2 separate regions of the Homo sapiens genome follow, and region 2 is linked to region 1. The links come from fine-mapping of genetic effects on gene expression. A gene starts in region 1. The other region holds a variant in brackets. All regions are shown on one strand. Distances are from middle to middle. Region 1 holds the start of LRRC59 (leucine rich repeat containing 59). Region 2 has its middle 10 kb from the start of XYLT2.

Region 1 (4,000 bases):
GCCTGAGAGCACAGGAGGAGGGACAATGATCGGGATATAAACCCAGGCATTCGAGCCGGCAACAGCAACCCCCTTTGGGTCCCCTGCCATTTTATGGGAGCTCTGTTTTCACTCTATTAAATCTTGCAACTGCACACTTTTCTGGTCCGTGTTTGTTACGGCTTGAGCTGAGCTTTTCCTTACCGTCCACTACTGCTGTTTGCTGCTGTCGCAGACCCGCTGCTGACTTCCACCCCTCTGGATCTGGCAGGGTGTCTGCTGGGCTCCCGATCCAGTGAGGCGCCCATTGCTGCTCTGGATCAGGCTAAAGGCTTGCCATTGTTCCTGCGTGGCTAAGTGCCTGGATTTGTCCTAATTGAGCTGAATAGAGCTATAACACTCATTGCATGGCCCAAGATTCCATTCCTTGGAATGCGTGAGGCCAAGAAACCCAGGTCAGAGAACAAGAGGCTTGCCGCCATCTTGGAAGTGGCCCGCCACCATCTTGGGAGTTCTAAGAACAAGGACCCCTGCCACCCACCCCCCGTAACAATTGCACTTACTTTATTTGGTGTTCATAGTTTCCCTCTGAGACAAGATTTTTTATTTTTTATTTTTTTAGAGATGGGGTCTTGCTATGTTGCCCAGACTGGTTTTGAACTCCTAGCCTCAAATAATCCTCTCATCTTGGCCTCCCAAGTATTGGGATTACAGGTGTGAGCTATCCTGCTCGGCCCCTCTGAGATAAGCTTTAATATCCCTATTTCAAAATGAGTAAACTGAGGTTTGGAGTGGGTAAAGTGCTTCCTTCCTTCATTCATTCATTCATTCATCCATCCATCTATTCATTTATTCAACAGACATCTGAATGAGTAGCTACCCTGCATCAGGGTATGCCAACTCTGGGCATACGAAGATGATTAAGACAAAAATCCCTGTCCTCACAGTCCAGAATGAAGGACAGACACATAAAGATGAGTATAATACAAGGTGGATCATGAATTGTAGCTAATATTTATTGGGTACTTACTAAGTGCCAGTGACTGCTGTAAGCTCTTGGTGTGTTTTACTCCTTCAGTTCTCCCCAACCTCTGTTAGCTACATGTCTCATAGATTGATTCATAGATAAGACTGAAGCCTGGTGATTGTCTACGGTTTTATAAGTAGCAAGTGGCAGAGCCAGGATGAATACCCAGTGGATAGGTATTAGTGCCAGAGGTCCCACTTGGCCATCAAGCTCTACTGTCTCTGATGATAAAGTAGCAAACAGGGACCTAAGTTGGTTGGGGGGGGCGCTAACTCAGTCTGGCATTCACGGTGTTCAGGGGAGATTTCCTGAAGGACTAAGGAATTAGCTAGACAGAGGTGAGTGGGGGGGAGGGAGGGCCATCGCTGGGGAGGGCCAGACGTGGGAGCCACCTCCTGGAAATCTACACAGCATCTAGGCCAGGCAGGGACTGGAGCGTGTGAGGAAGCTGCGAAAGCAGGCAGGACCCAGCTTCCAAAGGAAAGTGGTCCGTATCCTAGAGGTAGCTGCAAGTTTGAAGGGTTTTACGTAGGGGAGAGACTTGGCCAGATTTTTAGAAAGATCACCGGGGAGCTGGGTGAAAGTGGATGGAAGGACAGAGACAAGCACTGAGGCAGTGAGTGGGGAGGAGAGAGGAGAAATTCAGGAAGAAGAGTTTTCCCCATGATGGTTATTCGGGGGTTAAGTAGAGGACAGGGAGCAGTTTTAGAGGACACCCAGCTTCTGCTCCTAATCAGGGGGATTGGGGTGATCTGATGAGGTCAGTATTGGATGTCAACCCAGTCTTCTGGCGCCCAGTCCGTGCCCTTTCGCCTCGTGGCACTGCCAGCAATAATGCCCGCGGGCCACGGGTGAACGTGAACCGAGCTCGCAGCCTCCAACCCCACCCCTCCGGCGGCGGCGACGTGCAGTGCATCACCCTGGGCACCAGGGGGCGTGCCCGCACACGCTCGGGCCGCTCTGGCCCAGCCCATCTCAGTGGTCGCGGAAGGTGACGTGGACACGGAAGTGGTCGTCGTCGCGGCACCGGTGGGAGCTAGGCGCGAGGCTCGGAGTGCGGCCAGCGGGCGGAGGCGGTCTCGCATCGGCGGCGACGGAGGGCTCAGGCGTCGTCGTTTGGGTGGGGGGCCGCTGAACTGACAAGCGACATTTCAGCTCCTTTCACCCGCCGGAACCCCGGAGCCGGGGCCCGCTCAGCCGGCGTTACCATGACCAAGGCCGGTAGCAAGGGCGGGAACCTCCGCGACAAGCTGGACGGCAACGAACTGGACCTGAGCCTCAGCGACCTGAATGAGGTCCCGGTGAAGGAGCTGGTCAGTATCGTCCCGCGAGGCCCAGGCGCCCACCTTCGCCGGGCGCTGGCCCCTACGTGGGCCACTTACTTTCCTCTTCTCTAAAAGCATCAGTTTCCTTTTCTTTAAAAAGAAGCGGGGTGGTGGGACTAAGTCCCCTAGGAGGCCGCGTCCAGCCCAAGGTTCTTCCCGGGATGTACACGTGTCACTTTGGCGCAGTTCCAGAACATAGGGAAGATCTGCTTCTCTGGCCCTAGGCTTTTTACAGGCTAAGAAGCGAATCTGTCACCTTTGCGGGGCTTTCACAGCGCCCACCTCCGTGCCCGACTCTGAGTAGGAGCACACGGAGCAGTTACTGGATGTATTCGAGAATGAATGAGTGACTTGTTCCAGGGGAGTAGGCCTCCTGGTAGACCTGGGTGTGGCCCAGAACCTGGCTCTTCTAGGAAGCTGGCAATTCCAGCTGGCTGCCCGAGCCCTGAGGCAGCCTAACTCGAAGAAAGTAAAGTCTCCCCCCAGCTTGGCTGGTAAACTGTCATCTGAATTCCGCTGAAACTGGCGGGAGTCCCTTTCGCCCCTCTCTCCCCCAACCTTTCCCCTGTAAACTGAAGCTTACAGCTCCAGAGAGATAGCAGGCATCTAGTTTTGTCAGCGTGGAGCTAGTTCCCACATCCCTCCTTTTCCCACTCCGTTCCCCCTCCCACCCGCGCCAACGCCCTACTAGACTCACTTTGGGTGACCCACACTTTGCTTTCTGCCGTTGATAAATTACATTTGCCTTGGGCGCTGGGCCCAGTCTTTCTTCCACCGTGGACGGGTATTACAGTGGTTAGAACCGGGTTCCTAGCTCCTCCCAGCTCCATTGCTTAATAGCCGAGTGCCCTTGGCAAGCTAGTTAGCCTTTATGCCTAGATCTCCTCATCTATACAATGGTGATAATAGTTTCCATCTCATACGCTTATTGGGAGGTTAAATACCATTGTAATGGAAAATGCTTGGAAGGAGCAAATACTGATACTTGTAGCTGTTGTTGTGTTTTTCCCGCTGTAGTATTTAAAACTTTTTTAGGTGGTCAAACTTCACTTTTACGACTTTGTGACAGAAAGTGCAGGTTGCCAGAGGATCCTTAACTGAATATATGCCTCCTTTTCTACCCCAGGAAGATAGATGGCCAGCCTTATTTCACCCTGCCCTAGGACTGCTCTCTGAAACCATATACTCCAGGCATCTGAACAGTCCAGCATTAACCTTAGGGAGAAAGTTTTGCTGAGCTTGTCCAGCCTGGACACCATGGGAAAATAGAGATGGGCTGTGAGGGCCTTTTTTTTTTTTGGATGATGGAGTTTTGCTGTTGTTGCCCAGGAGTGATCTCGGCTCACTGAAACCTCTGCCTCCCGGGTTCAAGCGATTCTCCTGCCTCAGCCTCCCGAGTAGCTGGGATTACAAGCGTGTGCCACCATGCCTGGCTAATTTTCTATTTTTAGTAGAGACAGGGTTTCTCCGTGTTGGTCAGGCTGGTCTCGAACTCCTGACTTCAGGTGATTGCCTGCCTCAGCCTCCCAAAGTGGTGGGATTACAGGCGTGAGCCACCGCACCCGGCAGGGCCTTGTTTTTTCACTCTGTCATTCACTCCGCTACTTACTCGATCAGTCATGATTCAGGCAACATGTATGGATATTGAGTACCTGTTCTGAGGAAGGGC
Region 2 (4,520 bases), 61 kb after region 1:
GGTGAGGGAGGGATTCCCATCCTAGGTTTACAGAGATGGCCAAACACACGACATTTGATTCTGGGCAGATGAGATTGACAGTAGTGTATTAGTCACATATACTCATAGCCCAGGGCAGGATATCACACACCATGCAGGGCCACACAGGGGTTGCGCTCAGAGACAGTGAGCAACTAAGGGCTGTGGGAGGCAGGCTTTGTAGTATCAAGAGGATGAGATGTCCCCTAGTTTCAGCAGGAAGATGTGACTGGCTTATGTGGATAATTATGCAGGCTGCAGGCTGGCAGGAAACTGAAACCCACTACTCAGGAATAAGCAGGAAGTGCTCCTGGTCCCCTTGATAAGGGGGGTTATTTGGCTGGGGGACCTTATCCAAGGGAGCAGAGTGAGGAGGTGAACTTGTGGCTAGGCCAGTCAAAGCCTCCCAATTTCACCGCATATAAAGTCAGTATCAGCATTTAATACTGCGCCTGAGTTTTAGGCCTTAAACGCATTTTGCTGTTAATTTTCCTTTCAGGGCTATATAGACTGTTCGTCTGCTATAATCTTCCTTAATAATTTAGAAAGCAAGAATTAGAATTCTTTAAAAAAATTTTTTTTTCTTTTTTTAGACAAGGAGCATCTTACTATATTGCCCAGGCTGGCCTTGAATTCCTGGACTCAGGTGATCCTCCCTCTTCAGCCACCCAAGTAGCTGGGACTACAGGTGTGCACCACTGTGCTAGCTCTAGAATTCTTTTTAAAATTCTACTTGTGTTTACTTACAACTTTTCAGATAATTTTAATGTGACATTGTTCCTCAGTGGGTAGGCCTGTGCAAACCTGTCGCCAAAGTCCAAGGAAACTGAGAGACTGAAGAAAAAGGCTGACAAATTCAGTTTCTTAGAAATAAACAATAGGAAATTAGAAACAGAAGCCAGGTCTGTGTCTTGTGCAGTGGCTGGCAGGGAGACAAGATGTTACCCCCTAAGACCCAGGGCTTATCTACCACAGGGAAGGGGTATATGTGATCCAGAAGGCAGGTGAAGGACAATTGAAGTATGATAACATCAAAGTTGTTTTGACCTAAGGGAGGTAAGTACCTGTTCTTACACAGGTAACAATAGATAGACTGGAAAGCTTAGAGGAATTCCCAGAATTGGGGCTAATCAGAAGTCATCATGGCGGCTTAGCCTCCAATATGGAGTTGCTTTAGCCTTCACAGATATTCAATGATCACAGTCCTCATAGAACTATAATTTTTATTTCCCATTGTAGAAAATTAGTTTCTCCCTATTCATCCCCACTTCTTTTCTCTCTCTACTATGTGAACAAGGATCATTCTCACTTGTTAAAAGTTCATCTGGGGTTATGAACTTTGTCATTTTGGTTTATAATGTAGCTAATTTCTTTTAAGGGAATAATCTCTCTTTTTTTTAATCTTCAGTTTTGAGACTATTTAAAAATATTTAGAGTAATGCATATATATTAACTTGTTCAATGCCCTTTGCCAAGTAGATAATTTAAAAAATTACTTCCTGAGGCAGGCAGATAGCTTGAGCCCAGGAGTTTGAGACCAGCCTGAGCAACATGGCAAAACCCCATCTGTATTAAAAATACCAAAATTAGCCAGATGTGGGACTACCGTCGGTAGTCCCAGCTACTCAGGAGGCTGAGGTGGGAGGATTGCTTGAGCTCAGGGGAGTGAGGCTGCAGTGAACCATGATCACACCACTGCACTCCAGCCTGGGTGACAGAGCAAGGCCCTGTCTCAAAAGAAATAGTTCAAAAATTTCAAAAATAAGGCAACGAATTAATTAAAAACTGTTTCAGAACAGCCAATGATCTCCCTTTCTTTCCCCTCTGCTCTCTACTTAGAATTAACCAGCCTGGCCCGTTTGCTTTGTTGCTTCCACATTCTTCTCTCTGCTCATATAAATATATGCAGATGTCAACCCTTTGGTAGGTTTCCACTCCATGTTTTACAGAAGTAAGATGATACAGAAATTACCCAACACTGTGTTTTTAAATAAATCATCATTTTATCATGGATACCCCTCCAGGTTAATACATAATAGCTACATAATGTTTATTACTTTAGTATAGATACACCATAATTTATTAAGCCATTCACCTGTTATTGGGCATTGAGGTCATTGCTAGTTATTTTG[C/T]CCCTACACATATGGCTTCAAGAAGCATCTTAGTTCATATCACCTGATATACTGGTGTCTTTATTTTTGTATGATAGATTTCCAAGAGTGAGATGGGTATGTACATTTCTCTTTTAAAAGATATTGCCAGAACATTGCAAAAAGGTGCTAGCAATCTGTAGTCTTGAGAAGACATGAAAACTCTCCTTCCCCTAAACCTCTAAGCAGGTGCTTCAAGCTAGATATTTTTCTCATTCTTGAGTATTTACATCTGATTTTTTCTCTACTGTCCTGGCATACATCTTCAAGTGATTTATTAAAGAAGAGTATTCAGGAGGGATTCTTTTAAAAATAACTTCCACACCTGAGGTCTTTTTGTTGCCTTCATACATGAATGACAACATGGCCTATCCTTTAGGTTTTTCTAGATCAGTGTAGTTCAAACTACAGGTCACAACCCACTCAATTTAAAGGATTATGGCTACATTTTAAAAAACATAGAATGGGGGTGGGACATGGTGACTTACACCTATAATCCTAGCACTTTGGGAGGCCAAGGCAGACGGATTGCTTGAGCTTAGGATTTTGAGACCAGCCTGGTTGTCTCTACTAAAAAAAAAAAAAAAAAAAAAAAAAATTGGCCAGGTGTGGTGGTGCATGCCTGTAGTCCCAGCTACTCAGGAGGCTGAGCAGGGAGGATTGCTTGAGTCTGGGAGGTGGAGGCTGCAGTGAGCCATGGTTGTGTCACTGCATTCCAGCCTGAACGACAGAGTAAGACCCTGTCTCAATGAAAAATAAAAAAAAATAAGTTAGTCGAGCATGGTGATGTGCACCTGTAGTCCCAGCTACTTGGGAGGCTAAGGTGGGAGAATCACTTGAGCCCAAGGGTTTGAGGCTGCTGTGAGCTATGATCATGCCACTGCACTCCAGCCTGGGTGACAGAGCAAGACCCTGTCTCAGAAAAACAAGAAAAACAAAGCTCCACACAGTGGCTCACGCCTGTAATCCCAGCACGCCTGGTCTAAAAGTACAATGTATTTCTAATGATGACTTGAGATAAAAAGAAATTGACATTTTCTTCTTTTGCATGCTGTAGTCTTGAGAAGACAGTGATTTATTCAAGAAGACTATTCAGGAGGGATAGCTCACAGCAGCCTCGAACTCTTGGGCTCAAGGGAAGTCTGAGATCATTTTAATTTAAGCTCTCTGTTATTTTTTCCCATTTGTTTGTAAGATCCTTATTTATCACTGCCCCTTCCTGCATTTAAATTTGTTTTAAAAACTTTTTAAAAAAAATATGACCAGGCGCGGTGGCTCATACCTGTAATCCCAGCACTTTGGGAGGCTGAGGCGGGTGGATCACAAGGTCAAGAGATCAAGACCATCCTGGCCAACATGGTGAAATCCTGTCTCTACTAAAAATACAAAAATTAGCGGGGCATGGTGGCGCATGCCTGTAATCCCAGCTACTCAGGAGGCTGAGGCAGGAGAATCGCTTGAACCTGGGAGGCGGAGGTTGCAGTGAGCCGAGATCATGCCAGTGCACTCCAGCCTGGGCAAGAGAGCGAGACTCCGTCTCAAAAAAAAAAAAAAAAAAAAAATCCAAGAGAACTAAAGATAGAAAAGTAAAATCTCTGGCCAACCATGGTGGCTCATGCCTGTAATCCCAGCACTTTACGGGCAGGTCACTTGAGCCAAGAGTCCAAGGCCAGCCTGGGCAACATGGCAAACTCCTTTCTCTACAAAAAAATACAAAAGTTAGCTGTGTGTTGTGGCACATGACTGTAATCCCAGCTACTGGGGAGGCATGAGAATCACTTTAACCTGGGAGGCAGAGGTTGCAGTGAGCCGAGATCGCAACTTTGCACACCAGCCTGGGCAACAGAGCAAGACCCTGTCTCAAAAAAAAAAAAAAGAAAAAGAAAAAGAAAAAGAAGTAAAGTAAAATCTCTCTTCCCTTTCAGTTTCCTATTTCAAGGGTGTGTCTGTGTGTCTGTGTGTATGTTCCGGCAATTTTCTTAACTTTTTTAACTTTGAGAATTCCATCATAGTGTGTCTAAGCGGGGCCCTCTTTTCATTAACTTTGCTGGGAAGTCAGAACATGCTCTCAGTTTCCAGTTGAGTTCTTTCTTTACAGCAGGAAACTTTTCCCCTCCCATTTCTTTGAATACTGCTTTCCCTATGTCTGTTTTGTTCTCTCCAGAATTCCGATTATTCCCAGGTTATATCCCCCGTGTCTGACCGCCTGCCTCTTTCTTTTCGTCTTTTTATCATTTTGCCCTTCGTCATGTTAATTTTATTTTCTCCGTGTCTTGTCTGCTATTTACAGCCTCCATCATGGTTTCCCACCAGAGCTATTGTGGTTTCTGTCTCCTTGCTACACTTCCTGCT

What was found. PIP is the estimated chance that this variant, and not a neighbour inherited with it, causes the effect.
Region 2: its variant is the best candidate, but not a certain one, in a credible set for the expression of LRRC59 in whole blood (TOPMed, PIP 0.86).

What each region holds. Positions count from the first base shown.
Region 1 is chr17:50,395,532-50,399,531 of GRCh38, reverse strand. LRRC59 (leucine rich repeat containing 59) reads left to right here and starts at 2,009. Exons shown (of 7, transcript NM_018509.4): 1 at 2,009-2,319. The coding sequence starts at 2,215. LRRC59-AS1 (LRRC59 antisense RNA 1) reads right to left here. Exons shown (of 2, transcript NR_199069.1): 2 at 975-2,316. RefSeq lists a silencer at 1,963-2,032.
Region 2 is chr17:50,333,833-50,338,352 of GRCh38, reverse strand. No RefSeq gene overlaps it. Among named protein-coding and RNA genes, the nearest start is that of XYLT2, 10 kb to the left of the region's middle. The variant C/T (reference allele first, on the strand shown) is at 2,151.